Regions from separate parts of the Homo sapiens genome. Here regions 1 and 2 are each linked to region 3. The links come from fine-mapping of genetic effects on gene expression. A gene starts in region 3. Each other region holds a variant in brackets. All regions are shown on one strand. Distances are between the middles of the regions. Region 1 overlaps STAM (signal transducing adaptor molecule). Region 2 overlaps STAM (signal transducing adaptor molecule). Region 3 holds the start of HACD1 (3-hydroxyacyl-CoA dehydratase 1).

The links. PIP is the estimated chance that this variant, and not a neighbour inherited with it, causes the effect. A credible set is the group of variants that fine-mapping cannot tell apart.
Region 1: its variant is the best candidate, but not a certain one, in a credible set for the expression of HACD1 in follicular helper T cells (Schmiedel 2018, PIP 0.76).
Region 2: its variant is the best candidate, but not a certain one, in a credible set for the expression of HACD1 in whole blood (TOPMed, PIP 0.82).

What each region holds. Positions count from the first base shown.
Region 1 is chr10:17,674,671-17,679,767 of GRCh38, forward strand. All of the region lies in intron 2 of STAM (signal transducing adaptor molecule), which reads left to right. Among named protein-coding and RNA genes, the nearest start is that of STAM, 33 kb to the left of the region's middle. The variant T/C (reference allele first, on the strand shown) is at 2,030.
Region 2 is chr10:17,667,140-17,672,236 of GRCh38, forward strand. The region is part of intron 2 of STAM (signal transducing adaptor molecule); the gene reads left to right. Among named protein-coding and RNA genes, the nearest start is that of STAM, 26 kb to the left of the region's middle. RefSeq lists an enhancer at 3,950-4,704. The variant G/A (reference allele first, on the strand shown) is at 2,299.
Region 3 is chr10:17,614,911-17,620,007 of GRCh38, forward strand. It overlaps HACD1 (3-hydroxyacyl-CoA dehydratase 1), which reads right to left and starts at 2,464. Exons shown (of 7, transcript NM_014241.4): 1 at 2,173-2,464. The coding sequence starts at 2,429. RefSeq lists a silencer at 2,005-2,664.

The DNA.
Region 1 (5,097 bases), 60 kb after region 3:
GGTCAAGCAAGTCACTGAAGTCAGTCCAGGTTCAAGGGGAGGGTTGTTAGATGTCACCTCTTGAAGGGAAATGGTAAGTTCATGTCAAAGGAATTATTATCATAGTTATCTTTGGAATACATAATTTGCCTGAGGCCTGTTAGTTCCATAAGTGTTGAATCAGAACTTTGAACTTAACAAAACAATGAAAAATACCATTAGGAAAAAATAATTCTAATAAACAAAATTATAAATTCCACTTTTGATACTTGAGACACTCAATCCTTAAGAATGGAATGACAAAATGTGATACAAGGGTTTCTTCATTTTTAAATCTAACATTTAATTATGACTTTTGACATGGAAAAAATTGTTCTGTGTTGAAAGATGTACCCATTTGTGTGTATTTATAAATATGAACAGCTGACAGATAGGGAATCTTAACTGATTAGGTAGTCATGAAGATTTTCTTTCATGGTGCCTTTTCATCGCTTGGTTTTAGACACATGGCCTGATACAGCTTTTAGTTTATGAACATTCATAAAAGCCTAATTAAAGATAATAGCATTTTTTGGCTGGGCACGTGGCTTACGCCTGTAATTCCAGCCCTTTGGGAGGCCAAGGTGGGTGGATCACCTGAGGTCAGGAGTTTGAGACCAGCCTGGCCAATGTGGTGAAACCCTGTCTCCACTAAAAATAAAAAAATCAGCTGAGTATGGTAGTGCCTGCCTGTTATCTCAGCTACTTGGAAGGCTGAGGTGGGAGAATTGCTTGAACCCGGGAAGTGGAGGTTGCAGTGAACTGAGATCGCACCACTGCATTCCAGGCTGGGAGACAGAGTGAGACTCTGTCTCAAAAAAAAAAAAAAGATAGTAGCGTTTTCTGAAATTGATGGTTTTAAACATGATATTGTAGTTTATATAAAGTTTGGACAACTATGTTTATGTCACAGTTTTAACTTATACAGGGATTCACTTAAGTTTTAGAAAAAAACACTAGGCTAGACTATGAACTTCATGAAGCAGGGTCAGTCTCTTCTTGTTCACTACTTTATTCCTAAAGCCTTGCATAATGCTTGTCACCTAGAAGGTAATTAATGAACGTTAGTTATGGAAAGTATTATTAACAGAGTTCTTTGGTACCTATTGAATTTTTTTTTAACAGTGACTCTCTAATTTTTATGGCGGTGATTCACCCTGAAAGTCTTGCTTACCTAATTAGATTAATCCAAAGGGCCGGTATCCTTTTGCACTGATACCTACAAATAGCACTCCATGTGGTGGAATCAGATTATCTGAGTACTTCCAACACGATGAATGGGCAAAAATGAGAAGTTTTCTTAATTTACCATTAGATCAGAGAAGTGACTGCTGATAGAATTCATTAAAAAAAAAATCTGTCCTTTGCACATTTGCCCTAAGAGCTTCAAGTTCTGCAGAGTTTGTGTTTTGTTTGGGAAATTAGAAAGGTCTATTGCAAAAGAAAGCACAGTAGCACAGTTTGGATATTTGTGTGTGAAGATTGATTGATTAAGGAAGGTTCACGACTTAATTTTCATTTACTTCCAGGCATGAGCTGACTTATTTTTAATAGTTATGACTTCACCTAGAAACTGAATGGTTGAGAGTGGTATAATGGGGCAGGAGTGGGTATAGGGAGGATGTGATAGAGAGGAGCTCCATCTTAAATCTCCTTTCTTTGAATCTGACAGTGCAGTTTGTTGAGATAGGAGTAATACTGGTAAATAATGAAATTGAATTTGATGCTTTCAGTTCATCAGCTGACATATGTAGGCAGTTATGTACATTCCTGCAAAGTCTGTTCTTTGTCTGGTCTGTGATTTGAGAAAAAGACATTGGAAGCTGCAACGGTATAGAAATACTGCCCCCTTTTCTTTTACCCTCTTACGAACTATATGACCCAGATCTATTCATAAAAAGATGATTTTGTGGATGAACATAGTTTTGGCTGTTGTGACCATAACATCCAATTTGCCTTGGACAATTGTAGTTTATGCCTGCTGTTCCTCTGTTATGTCCAGTTAACACCA[T/C]CTTTCACTCGCGAAAGGGTACTGCCATAGAGAATGAATTATATAGACACCATGCTTGTAATCAACTTTCATTTGTCATTGGAAGGATAATAGCCAGAAGTATACTCACGTTAAATTCACTTATAATCCCCAAACCTTTTTAAAAAGTAGTGTTTTAACCATACTTTTAATTACTTGGTAAGATTTAATAATTATACATATATATATATATAAAAGTTCAGTATTACCTATCTGGTGGAAATACTAAAAACTGAATTAAAAATGCATAGGACAGAATGAAACAGTTCATAATAGTGGTTAAGTTCTGTTTTGTAGACAGTTCTGAAGGGATTTTTAAGCTAGTATGTAAAAAGATACTGCTGTGTTTGCACAAACAAGGTGTTCATCAGCGCTTCATTCTTACTGGCTTTGCAGCTCTGTCCTTTTAATGGTTCAGTAGCCAATTTTATTTTGGTGCCAGAGATATCTTTGCTTTGGTTTTTACAATTGGCTGTGGTAAAACAACATAGGAATGTCTAAAATAAAAAGGAATAGTTTCATTTCAACACCCCTTTCCCCACCATCCTTTCCAAAAGTCACAGTTTAGGTTTCCTACCTTAAAAAAAAGTGGTTTATAAACAAAATACATAATCAATTTTATTTAACATTTGGTAAAGAAAGTATACAGGATTATTTTCTAAAATATTGAGCTGAATCATCTTTAGATTATTTTTTACTGATTTTAATTTTAGTATTCAAATAATTCTTTATATCTGGCCTTTACCATGCATTGAAATGATTGTTTTGTGTTTTTATGTCGGCATGGTATTCACAACTGCAAGTCAGTATGGGGTCACGGACCCTGGCTCCTAAAATAAGTCCAACTGTGAAAAAGGCAAAATCTAAATAATAGTGTTAAAGTACATAATTTCTTCAGTCTAATGATGCTGCTATCCAAAAATTTTAATCTCTTACAAAATCAGTAAAGTAGAAGAAAAAAGTTTTAGGATTAAAAAAATTGAATGCTTGGCACATAATAGACATTCAGTCAATATTAGTTCTTTTGTGTGTTGTTTCTCCCTTCACCATGCTCTTTAGGTGGAAGCAGCCTCACAGGCAGTTGAGCATCCTTAAAATCAGGAATCCTACCTTGTATCCTAATTTTTCTATATAATTATTAAAAAGGATTTTTTTGTATTTATTACAGTGCTAACTAATTATACTTAAGCATATTGCTTTGCTTTCCAGGGCTCATTGGAGTTCAAATTGCCCGATAAAAGTTTTTACTTTTATAAATACATATATATTTCACATACCATCAAATTTACCATTTTAGAATATACAATTCAGTGGGTTTTAATATGTTCATAAGTTTGTGCAACAGTATCTAATTCCTGAACAATCATCATCCCAAAAAGAAAGCTGTACTCATTAGCAGTCACTCCCATTCCCACCTCTCCTCATTCCTGGAAACCACTAATCTACTTTCTATCTGTGTGGATTTGCCTGTTGTAGACATTTCATATAAATGGAGCTCTGCAATACATGTTCTTTTGTGATCAACTTTCTTCATGTGGTGTAATTTTTTTTTTGGAAGACAGAGTCTCGCTGTGTTGCCCAGGCTAGAATGCAGCGGCACAATCTCAGTTCACTGTAACCTGCACCTCCCAGGTTCAAGCGATTCTCCTGCCTCAGCCTCCTGGGTAGCTTGGATGGGGTACATGCCACTGTGCCTGGCTAAGTTTTTGTATTTGTAGTAGAGATGAGGTTTCACCATGTTGGCCAGGCTGGTCTCGAACTCCTGATCTCAGGTGATCCGCCTGCCTCGGCCTCCCAAAGTGCTGGGATTATAGGCGTGAGTCACCACGCCCAACCTCATGTAGTGTAATTCTTCTGAGGTTCGTTTATGTTGTAGCTTGTATTAGTACTTATTTTATTTTGGTAAAATATATTTAACATAAAGTTTACTATTTAAATCATTTTTAAGTGTATAATTCAGTGGTATTTAGTACATTCACAGTATTATGCAACCAACACCACTATCCATTTTCAGAACTTTTTCATCATCCCACGTAGAAACTCTACACCTTTGAAATAATGGCTGTCCATTTCCCCTCCTAGCCACTAGTTACTTTTTTCTATGTTCTATCTTTATGAATTTGTCTATTCTAGATACCTCATGGAAGTGGAAACATAGAATTTTTTGTGCTTTTGTGTCAGACTTATTTCACTTAGCATAATGTTTTCAAGGTCCATCCATGTTGTATATAGCATGTGTCAGAATTTCCTTAAGGCTGAATACTATTCCATTGTATATCACATTTTGTTTATCCATTCTTTCGTTGATGGACATTTGGCTGTTGTGAATACTATTAATACTACTCTGAACATGGGTGTACGGATATTGGTTAGAGTCCCAGCTGGATTATATGTGGTTATGCTTAATTTTTTGAGGAACTACCACACTTTTCACAGTAGCTACACCATTTTACATTCCCACCGGCAATGTACAAGGGTTCTAATTTCACTACATCCCCTCCAATATTTGGTATCTTTCCTTTCTTAAAAAAATAGCCAGCCTAGTGAGTGTGAAGTGGCATCTCAATGTGGTTTTGATTTGCATCTCCCTAATTGCTAGCGATGTTGAGCATTTGTTATGTGCTTATTGGCCCTTTGTGTATCTTACTTGGAGAAATGTCTATTCAAGTCCTTTGCCCATTTTTGAATTGGGTTGTTGTTCGTTGTTGAGATGTAGGAGTTCTTTATATATTCTGGCTGTTAATCTCTTGTCATATATATGATTTGGAAATATTTTCTCCCATTCTGTGGGTTGACTTTTCTTTATTGATGGTATCCCTTAATGCACAAAAACTTTTAATTTTGATGTTTAATTTGCGTGTGTTTTTTTTTTTTAAATGAAGTGTTGATGTTAATTTTTAAACATTTGGTAGAATTCACCAGTGAAGCTTTCTGTTTCTGAGATTTTCTTCGTGGGAAGTTTTCTTAATCAGTAATTTAGTCTTTTTACTTGTTACATAGGTCTATTCAGATTTTCTGTTTCTTCTTAAGTCAGTTTCTTTTCTTTTTTC
Region 2 (5,097 bases), 52 kb after region 3:
TTTTGAGACAGAGTTTCACTTTTGTTGCCCAGGCTGGAGTGCGATGGTGCGATCTCAGCTCACTGCAACTTCTGCCTCCCAAGTTCAAGCGATTCTCCTGTCTCAGTCTCCTAAGTAGCTGGGATTACAGGTGAACGCCACCATGCCCGGCTATTTTGTATTTTTAGTAGACATGGGGTTTCAACGTATTGGTCAGGTGGCCTTGAACCCCTCACCTTGTGATCTGCCCTCCTCAGCCTCCCAAAGTGCTGGTATTACAGGCGTGAGCCACCGCATCCAGCCCATAGAATTTTTTTTTTAAAACGTGATCTTGATTTCCATGTTTCACTCAGTTTCGTAACATGGCAGAATTTCTTTAATTCGTTTCATTCTCTTTGCGTTCGTCATTTTTTCTTTTATTTGTCAAATACTGAATGCCAAATATCATGCTTTGGCTATACAGTGGTGAATAAAGCAGGCATAGCCTTTGCCGTCAATGGTGCTAATATTCTAATGGTGGAAGATGTGAAATAAACAGATACTAACAGATGATGGTCAATAGCTAAGAAGCTAGTAACCAGAGTGCTATAATGGAAAATAAAAAGGTAGACTGGTATGAGGGGGTTACGTTTATGCTATAATTTTAATGTTGAAAAGAGACAGAGTTCAAAGCACTGCATCCCAGAAAGAAGCAATAGTCTGTAGGTGAATGCTGAATGCTACAAGGTAGAGAAAACTTGATGCCTTCTAAGAACTTGAAAGTTACAGAGTAGCTGGAGCAGAAGTCAGTTGCCCTGAATGAGCGCAGAGCTGGGTTTCAGAGTGAGTTAGAAAAATAGAAGATGATGGTTGGAAGGTAGGATCCTTTAAATTAAAACTATAGAGGGTTTTCAGTTATTGGTAATGACAAGGTCTGATGACTCCAAGGTCCATCGGAGTTAATAAGATGTGATAGAAGTTGAAAAGCCAAAGTGTTGAAAGCATCACTTACACTGTTATTAAAAGCTCCAAGAATTAGGACAGGAGTGATGTTGGAGAGAGAGGCAGTGATCCAGTAGCTAAAATAATTGACAGGTGAAGGGGCATTTGAGATTTTTAAATAAACTGCAACATGAGGGGACTGACGTGATTGGAGCTGGGCAGTTTTAGGAAAGAGGGAGAGTGGTTTGGAAGAGGCAAGGGAAATGAATGCACATTGCTTAGCATAATGCATATTGAACAGATAGTACAGAGGTCAACTCCGACACAATTTCCCCAATTATTCACATATTTCATTAGTGTATATATTTGTTACAAGATATGAACCAATATTGATACATTACTATTAACTAAAGTCCATAGTTTGCATTAAGGTACACTTTGTTTTGTACAGGTCAATGGGTTTTGACAGTGTATATAATGACATGTGTCTACCATTGTGTAATGCCACGTATCTGTCATTACAGTACCATGCTGAATAGTTTTATCACCTTAAAATGACCTGTGCTCCATCTGTTCATTCCTTTCCTTCCTCTCTTTGCACTTTAAACAGCCACTGATCTTTTTACTGTTTACAAGTTTATCTTTTCCAAATGTTGTGTAATTGGGATCGTAGACTATATAGCCTTTTCAGACTGGCATCTTTCACTTACCAGTATGCATTTAAGGTTCCTACGTGCCTTTTCGTGGCTCAGTAGTTCATTTCTTCTTATTGCTGAATACTCTTCCATTATATGGATGTTCTACAGTTTGTTTATTAACCTACTGAAGGACATCTTGTTGGCTCCCAGTTTTGGTGATTTTTAATAAAGCTGCTATAAACATGAATTTGCAGCCTTTTGTGTTGACATCGTTTTAAGTTCAGTTGGGTAAATATGTGAGAACATGATTGCTAGATCATATGGTAAGACTGTTTATCTTTGTTAGAAGCCACCAGACTGTCCCCACAGTCTCAGTATGGTTTTGTTTTTTACATTCAAGTCTTTGATCTATTTGGAATTTATCCTGTTAGGCAGTATGAAGTATGGTTCTAACTTTATTCTTTTCTATTTGGCTACCAAATATCCCAACACCATTTACTGAATCGTCCATCTTTTTTTCTTCTGATTTGAAATATTTCTTTTATATATTATATTTGCATATGTATTTAAGTCTGTTTTTCTCTTTTGACCCGTTGGTATGTGTCTAAACACATTCTGCTACCACATGGTTTTAATTATTAATATGTTTTGACATTTGGTAGGATATGGTCTTGAGGTTTTTTTTTTTTTTTCCGGAAATGTTGTTTTAGATATTCTTTCCCCTTCCTACTCTCATTAAATAAACTTTCAAATTGAGTTG[G/A]CTGGGTTAAAAACAAAACTTTCTGTTTAAATTGGCCTAGTTTTAAATTAACAAATTTATGTCTTTATGATATTAAATCTTCCTATCCGAGAACATAGCATCTCTTTTTGTTTATAACCTTTAGTAGTGTTTTTAAGTTTTCCTCTTAAAAGTCTTGTACATTTTTTGTAATGTTTCGTCTGAGGTATTTTGTCCTTTTTGCTGCTGTTTCAGTGGGGTTTTTCTTTCACTGATTGGGAATTTCCCTTCTTTTTCTTTCTTTCTTTTTTTTTTTTTCTGAGATGGAGTCTCGCTCTGTCACCCAGGCTGTAGTGCAGTGGCGCAATCTCAGCTCACCGCAAATGCCGCCTCCCAGGTTCACACCGTTCTCCTGCCTCAGCCTCCCCAGTAGCTGGGACTACAGGCACCCGCCCCTATGCCCTATGCCCGGCCAATTCTTTTCTTTTCTTTTTTTTTTTTTTTTTTTGTATTTTTAGTAGACACGTGGTTTCACCATGTTAGCCAGGATGGTCTCGATCTCCTGACTTCGTGATCCGCCCATCTCGGCCTCCCAAAGTGCTGGGATCACAGGCGTGAGCCACTGCGCCCAGCTGGGAATTTCCCTTCTTAAAGGGTAGACGGGATTATAGCATCTGTGTATCTGGAAGAGAATGATGCACTTTGAGGGGGAAATTGAGATGATGATTCAGGAGAGAATTGGGATAACAACAGAAGTCAAGTTGTTGACTAGGCAATAGGGAATGGGATCCGATGCGAGCTGATTTTTCTATCTTTACTTGCCTAGACAATGATTTTACTTTTTTATTTTACTAAGTCTTAAAAACATCGTATATTTTATAGAATGAGACTTATAGAATTCTGATGACTGTTGTGCTTGTTTTGCAGATGAGAAAACTAAAGCCCTGAGATTTTTAATGTGACTTGTCTAAAACGAGTGAGCAGAGGCAAAATTAGAAGTCAGATTTCTTTACTTCCCATTTTATGTTTTTTTCTACCTTCACTGTGCTGTGTGCTTAGGTGCTTGTATGAGCAGTTATATTTGAAGGTTAAAATTATGAATCAAGACATACCAATCTTACATTAAAGTTTTTGGTGATTCCTCTCTCCCCATACGTTATGTTACATTGTGTTTTGTTTGACTGAAATATACCTTAGTGTTACATGGTCTAGAAAACTCAAAATATCATCGTACTGAATTTAATCCTCAATATTTTAGTTCAGCATGTAGAAGTTTAGTTTATCTGCTTTTCTAATGAAGTCCTTTGGGACTTACATGAACATGTTTGTTAAATAATAGTCAAATAACATCACTGTATATATTTATATTCACGTTCCATTATCTCATAAGAAATGCCTACTTAATAAGCTTAACATTAAGGGAATAATTTGATATTTGTACTCTATATTTTGCTCCTTTTATATGTTGTGTGGATTATGTTTTATGTAATGTATGTTACAAATCAAATTTGCATTTTGAATATGTTCAGTATATAAAGATTGCATTATTTCTGTTGTGATTTCTTTTGTACTTTTATATTAGAATTCTCTTACAGTCTGTGACATGCCTTCATGCTTATGAAAGGCATCTAAATAAGGCTCTACTCAGTATTCAAGGAGCATTCATATTATCTCTTAATTTCTAAAAATATTTAGTTCATTCAGCAAAGATTTGAGTTCCCATGTCTTTTAGCTGCTGTGTGTCTGCTAGGTCCTGGTATACTAAGACCTATAAAAGCTATGCATGCACATACTCCTCCTTCCTCCAATATAGACGTACATATGTCCTTGAATGGTAAACCACAGTAAAGCTTTTTTTGTAGCATTTTAGATGAAGATGTAATGTTTAAATCACTCTAAAATAACTTTGAAAGCTACAGTTGTAAAAGCAAAGATAAAAAATGAAACATTTTTGTGCTTTCAAGAACTAACATTGTTGAGAGTCTCTAAATCCCTGGCATGAGTCTAGGAGTTTTGTATTAACATTCTGATAAGGAGGTATTAGACATCTCCTCTTTTACAGATGAGGTCTGTCAAAGCTTCAAATCGTTTTTCTACTGTATCACAATGCTTCTTTTGTTTAGTAATGGTTTTCAGCCTGGGTGGTATTGCTCCATTAGGGATGGTTTCAGGTGTCCCATGACAGGCGGGTTACTACTGATGTTACTGATGTAGTAACTAGCAGGGATCAGGGATGCAACATGCCAGATAGTCTTTCACTAGTGTCCTTGTACGTTTTTAGTCTGACATAGGTTATTAGAGGTTAACCATGCAAACATATTTGTTAACCATGTTTTTTATTATTGCTATTGATAATTTTTGTTTTGATCATTTTTCTTTTATATTTGCAATACTTTTAGGCAAATACCCTGTTATTTTGTTATGTCCTGAGAGAGGGATAATGAAGAGGTGATATCCTCATTTTGAAAAGTTGATTGGTCTAAAAATCATTTATTAATTTAGTAATATATACAGGAATTAGAATTTAAATTTACTGTCTTTTCAATGACAATAATTTCCTTTAGAGTATACAATCTTCCTGTCACTGCTCGGCATATGGTTTTTATGATACTAAAAAGTACTTTTCAACTGAGATATAGAGCTATTTGAAATAGGAGAATTTTCAAAAGTTTTATACAGCATAGGATGTCACAAATCTTGACTCCTTTTTCCAACAATAGCTTTAAATATTCTTGGCTTCCTCCTATATAGCAATGGAAATACCTTTTCAGATAATCTCACTAACTGGTGACCGCGCCTAACATTGAGCTATAGATCTCTCATAACTGTACAACAGTATAC
Region 3 (5,097 bases):
CCCGGCTAATTTTTTGTATTTTTAGTAGAGACGGGGTTTCGCCGTGTTAGCCAAGATGTTCTCGATCTCCTGACCTCGTGATCCGCCCACCTCGGCCTTCCAAAGTGCTGGGATTACAGGCGTGAGCCACCGCGCCCGGCTCCGGAAACGTTTATTAACCAGACTATCACAGAGGTGAGAGAATTCTTTCAGTTCCGAATGCATTTAAAGGCAGCATCATTTCGTGATTGCTGAATTGTTGTAAATACATTAGTTTTCTCACTTTCCAAGAGTATAATTTAGGAGGAAAGAAAGATGAAGTAGCAGGACAGTGGAGTCAGAGAGTCCGGGTTGAAACCCATGTCTGACTGACACTTGCTGGCTGTGATCTTGGGCAAGTATCTGTGCCTCACTCTTCTAATCTATATAATGTAATATCATGTGCCCCTCACAGGACTTTAAAGGACTAAAAATACACCTAAAATAACCAACACAGTCCCCTGCATAGTAAGTCCTCAGTAAATAACATTTGTATGAACTGTATTTGGCATTCAATATCATATGCTAAGCACATAATAGAAACTCAATCACCATAGGTAAAGATTTATTAAATTTTTGTCAATCACATTTTTCTATAAACCCTGGAGAAAGTTTAAAATATTAAGCCGGAAGTGGTAATCCCAGCACTTTTGGAGGTTGAGGTGGGAGGATTGCTTGAGGCCGGGAGTTTGAGACCAGCCTAGCCAACACAGTGAGAGGCCATCTCTATTTTTAAAAAATTAAAATAAAATATTAGGCCCGGTGCGATGGCTCACACCTGTAATCCCAGCACATTGGGAGGCCGAAGTGGGGGAATCATTTGAGGTCAGGAGTTCGAGACCACCCTGGCCAACATGGTGATACCCTGTCTCTACCAAAAATACAAAAATTAATGGGGCGTGGTGGCCCACGCTTGTAGTCCCAGCTACTCCGGAGGCCGAGGCAGGAGAATCGCTTGAACTCCGGAGGCTGAGGTTGGCAGTGAGCGGAGATCGCGCCAATGCACTCCAGCCTGGGCGACAGAATGAGTCTCCGTCTAAAAAATAAAATAAAATACTGTCAGGGCGGGATGGCTCACGCTTGTAATCCCAGCACTTTGGGAGGCCGAGGCGGGCGGATCATGAGGTCAGGAGATGGAGACCATCCTGGCTAACATGGTGAAACCCCGTCTCTACTAAAAATACAAAAAAATTAGCCAGGCGTGGTGGCGGGCGCCTGTAGTCCCAGCTACTCGGGAGGCTGAGGCAGAAGAAAGGCATGAACCCGGGAGGCGGAGCTTGTAGTGAGCCGAGATCCCGCCACTGCACTCCAGCCAAGACCGAGCGAGACTCCGTCTCAAAATAAATAAATAAATAATAAAAAGAAAAAAAGAAAATAGTAAACTTTTCCTCGCGTTTACATAAGTTAATACTTCGAGTGATAATGGGAAAATAACTTTTTTAAAAGGCAGTGCAATTGAGAAATGGAAAAGCATTTTCCCAACAGGTTTTGAGAAGCAGTTGACACAAAAGTCACTTTGAGAGCTCTGCGAAGAGCGACAGTCATTGTGTAACCTTAACTTGCAAAGTCATACTCAAAGCCAAAAATCAAGGTCCAGCTTATCAGCCACGGAGCCTGAGGCCATAAAGATGCTGGGCAGGAGCTCCACGCTGGGATAAGTGGGGTGGTTATTTCAAAATCGTCCCAAGTGACAAGCTCTAGGACGTGCTGTGCTTTAAAAAAAAAAAAAAAAAAAAGTCGCGGTGAAATTAACAGGGGCGAAAACTCTGCCCAGCGATCGCAGCATGAAGCTCTGCGCTCCCGAGACCATCGAGTGGCCAGGGCTGGGCGCTCCTTCAACAGCAGCGAAGGCAGCGGCGCCGGGGCAGCAGCCACCTCCCCCGCGGGCCGGCACCGCATTCCTGCCCGGTTCTATACTTAACCTCCGGCCAGCGCCCCGCCGTGCACCGTATTAGGCAATGCCAGGCGCGCAGGGCCCGGCCCCCCCGCCCGCTCCATTCAACCCCGGCGGTGGCCGCGGCGACAGCTCCCTTCCCCCACGGCCGCTGCCCGCACCCCCCGCGCCCCTTACACCCCGGCCCGCGCCCCCTGAACCCGGAACCTCCGCGGACCGCGGCGCGGGGAGGGCCCGAGGGTGCCCCGCGGCGCGCGTACCCCGCGGTCATGGCGATGTCGTAGAAGGTGAGCCAGGCGGTGGCCAAGACCCCCAGGCGCCTCCGCTCGCCGGGAGCCTCCCGGTCCTCGCCGGCCTCCGAGGCGCCGCCGTTGGTGCCGTCCTCGTCGCTGGACGCCATGGTGGCCGCGCACCTGGGGGACGTGGGAGACAGCGGCAGGAGCGTGGGAGGGGACCCTGCCCAGCCTGCAGCCCGAGAGCCGCTGCCCGCTGCCGCCGCTTCCGTCAGGCGCCCCATGTGCAGCGCGCAGGGGGCTCGGCGCAGCCAGCTCTACCGACCGCGAGGGGGAGGAGCGGACGCCCCCGGCCACCGCCCGTCACGCCCCCGCCCCGCCCCGCCCCTTGGGAGCGCGCGCCACTCGGGGGCCAGAACGCCTGGCCCTGGCACTGGGGATCCAGGACCCGCGAGCCCCGGCACGCTTTCCAGGCGGCGCTGTAGTTTCCGCTCCCGAGGAAAGTGCACCCGCCTCGCTAGCTGCGGGCGCCTCTTCATAGAGAGACGCCCAGACGCCTTGCGCCCTGGCGATGCGCACCCTGCGAGTGCATTTAGTGGGGACACAGGGAACGCACCTGAACTTGGCGTGGCTCTGCCCTGCCTGGCCTTTTGTAAGGCAGTTTCTCAATACGCAGGCAGGGAGCGGGATCTTCCCGCCACTCATTCTTTTCTTTTTAGAGATGCGGTCTCAGTCTGTCTCCTAGGCTGGAGGGCAGTGACGTGAACATAGCTCACTGCAATTTCGTGAGCTCAAGCAATCTTCCCACCTCTGCCTTCCAAAGTTCTGTGATTACAAGCCTGAGCCACAGCGCTGGGCCAAACATTCATTCATTCTTAAGAGCTTCTGGGGAAGAAACGCCTATTTCGCCCTGTTTCCCGTTTACTAGCGAGTCCAACAGGTCTTCCAACAGTGAGAAGACCGTCCCACTTGAGTGATTTTTTTTTCCTTTTTCATTTCTTATTTTTTTTTTTTTTTACAGTCTGGAGTGCAGTGTTGTGATCTCGGCTCACTGCAACCTCCGCCTCCCTGATTCAAGAGATTCTCCTGCCTCAGCCTCCCGAGTAGCTGGAACTACAGTCATGCACCACCACGCCCGGCTAATTTTTGTTATTTTTAGTAGAGACGGTTTCACCACGTTTGCCAGGCTGGTCCCGAACTCCTGGCCTCAAGTGATCCACCCGCCTTGGCTTCCCAAAGTGCTGGGATTACAGGCGTGAGCCACCGCACCCGGCCTCACTTGTGTGAATTTTACCGGAGCGTGTGTGTGTGTGTGTGTGTGTGTCTGTGTGTCTGTGTGTCTGTGTGTGTGTCTATTTACCAAGTGTCAGGCCTCTGAGCCCAAGCTAAGCCATTATATCCCCTGTGACCTGCACGTATACATCCAGATGGCCTAAAGTAACTGAAGAATCACTAAAGAAGTGTGGCCGGTTCCTGCCTTAACTGATGACATTACCTTTTGAAATTCCTTGCACCTACTGAAATACAACCCCCAAATTCCTGAATCCTCCCATTTTATTAGCTGTGTGAACTTGGACAACGTAACCTATCCATGCCTCAGTTTCCTTAGTGGAAATAATTTTTAAAAATCGTGAGCAGAGATCGCCCGTTGCACTCCAGCCTGGACGACAGAGTGAGACTCTGTCTCAAAAAAATAAAAAAAAAAGGAAAGGAAGGCTGGGTGTGGTGGCTCACCCCTGTAATCCTAGCACTTTGGGAGGCCGAGGTAGGCAGATCACTTGAGGTCAGGAGTTTGAGGCCAGCCTGACTAACATGGTGAAACCCCGTCTCTACTAAAAATACAAAAATTAGCGGGGCATGGTGGCGGGCGCCTGTAATCCCAGCTACTCAGGAGTTGAGGCAGGAGAATCGCTTGAACCCAGGAGGCACAGGTTGCAGTGATTTGAGATCGCCCCATTGCACTCCAGCCTGGGTGACAGAGCGAGACTTCTTTTCGAAAAAGAATAAAAATAAAATAAAGGGAAGAAAGAAGTAAAACTGTTTGCAAATGAGAGCAATGTGTTTCCTAGAAAATCCCAGGAATCTCGAGGAATCCTAAAAAAAAAAAACCTCCTGGAACTACAAGATCAACATAACAAAAATCAATTGTTTTTCTACATGTGTACACGGAACAACTGGAAAATGAAATTTAAAATAAACCATACAACGTTAATCAGCATCCAAAAACATGAACTATATAGGCATAAATTTCACAAAATATGTGTGAGACGTATACACTGAAAATTATAAATCATTGCTCAAAACTATAAATCTCTGCTGAGAGAAATGAAAGATCTAAATAAATAGCTGTTGCCTGTTCATGAATTGGAAGACTCCATACTGTTAAATGTCAATTCTCTCCAAATCCCAGCAGATTTTTTTTTAACTTGACAAGCTAACTATAAAATTCATGCAGAGGTACATAGGAAGAAGAAAGTTGGAGCACATATACATCTGGTTTAAAGACTTACTATAAAACTAGTTTTCAACACACTGTGGTACACATAAGGTGAGACATAGAAATCAGTGAAACAGAATCAAGTCCAGGGATAGACCCATATGTATGTGGTCAATTGATTTTTATAAGAAGCTAAGGTAATTTCCATGTGGAAAATATAATCTTTTCAGTAAATGAAATGACTGGATACCCATATCAAAAAATAAATCTTACCTCACACCATAGATAAATATTAAGTTGAAATGAATGACAGACCTAATCATGAAGCTATAATTACATAATTTCTAAGAAAATACAGAACAATCTTTGTGACTTTGGGGAAGGTGAAGATTTTGGAGGTAGAAAAAAGCACTAATCATAAAAAGGAAATAAAAGACAGATTGAACTTCATCAAAATGGGAAACATCTGTGTTTTCAAGACAACATTAAAAAAGTGAAAATATTCACGACAGATG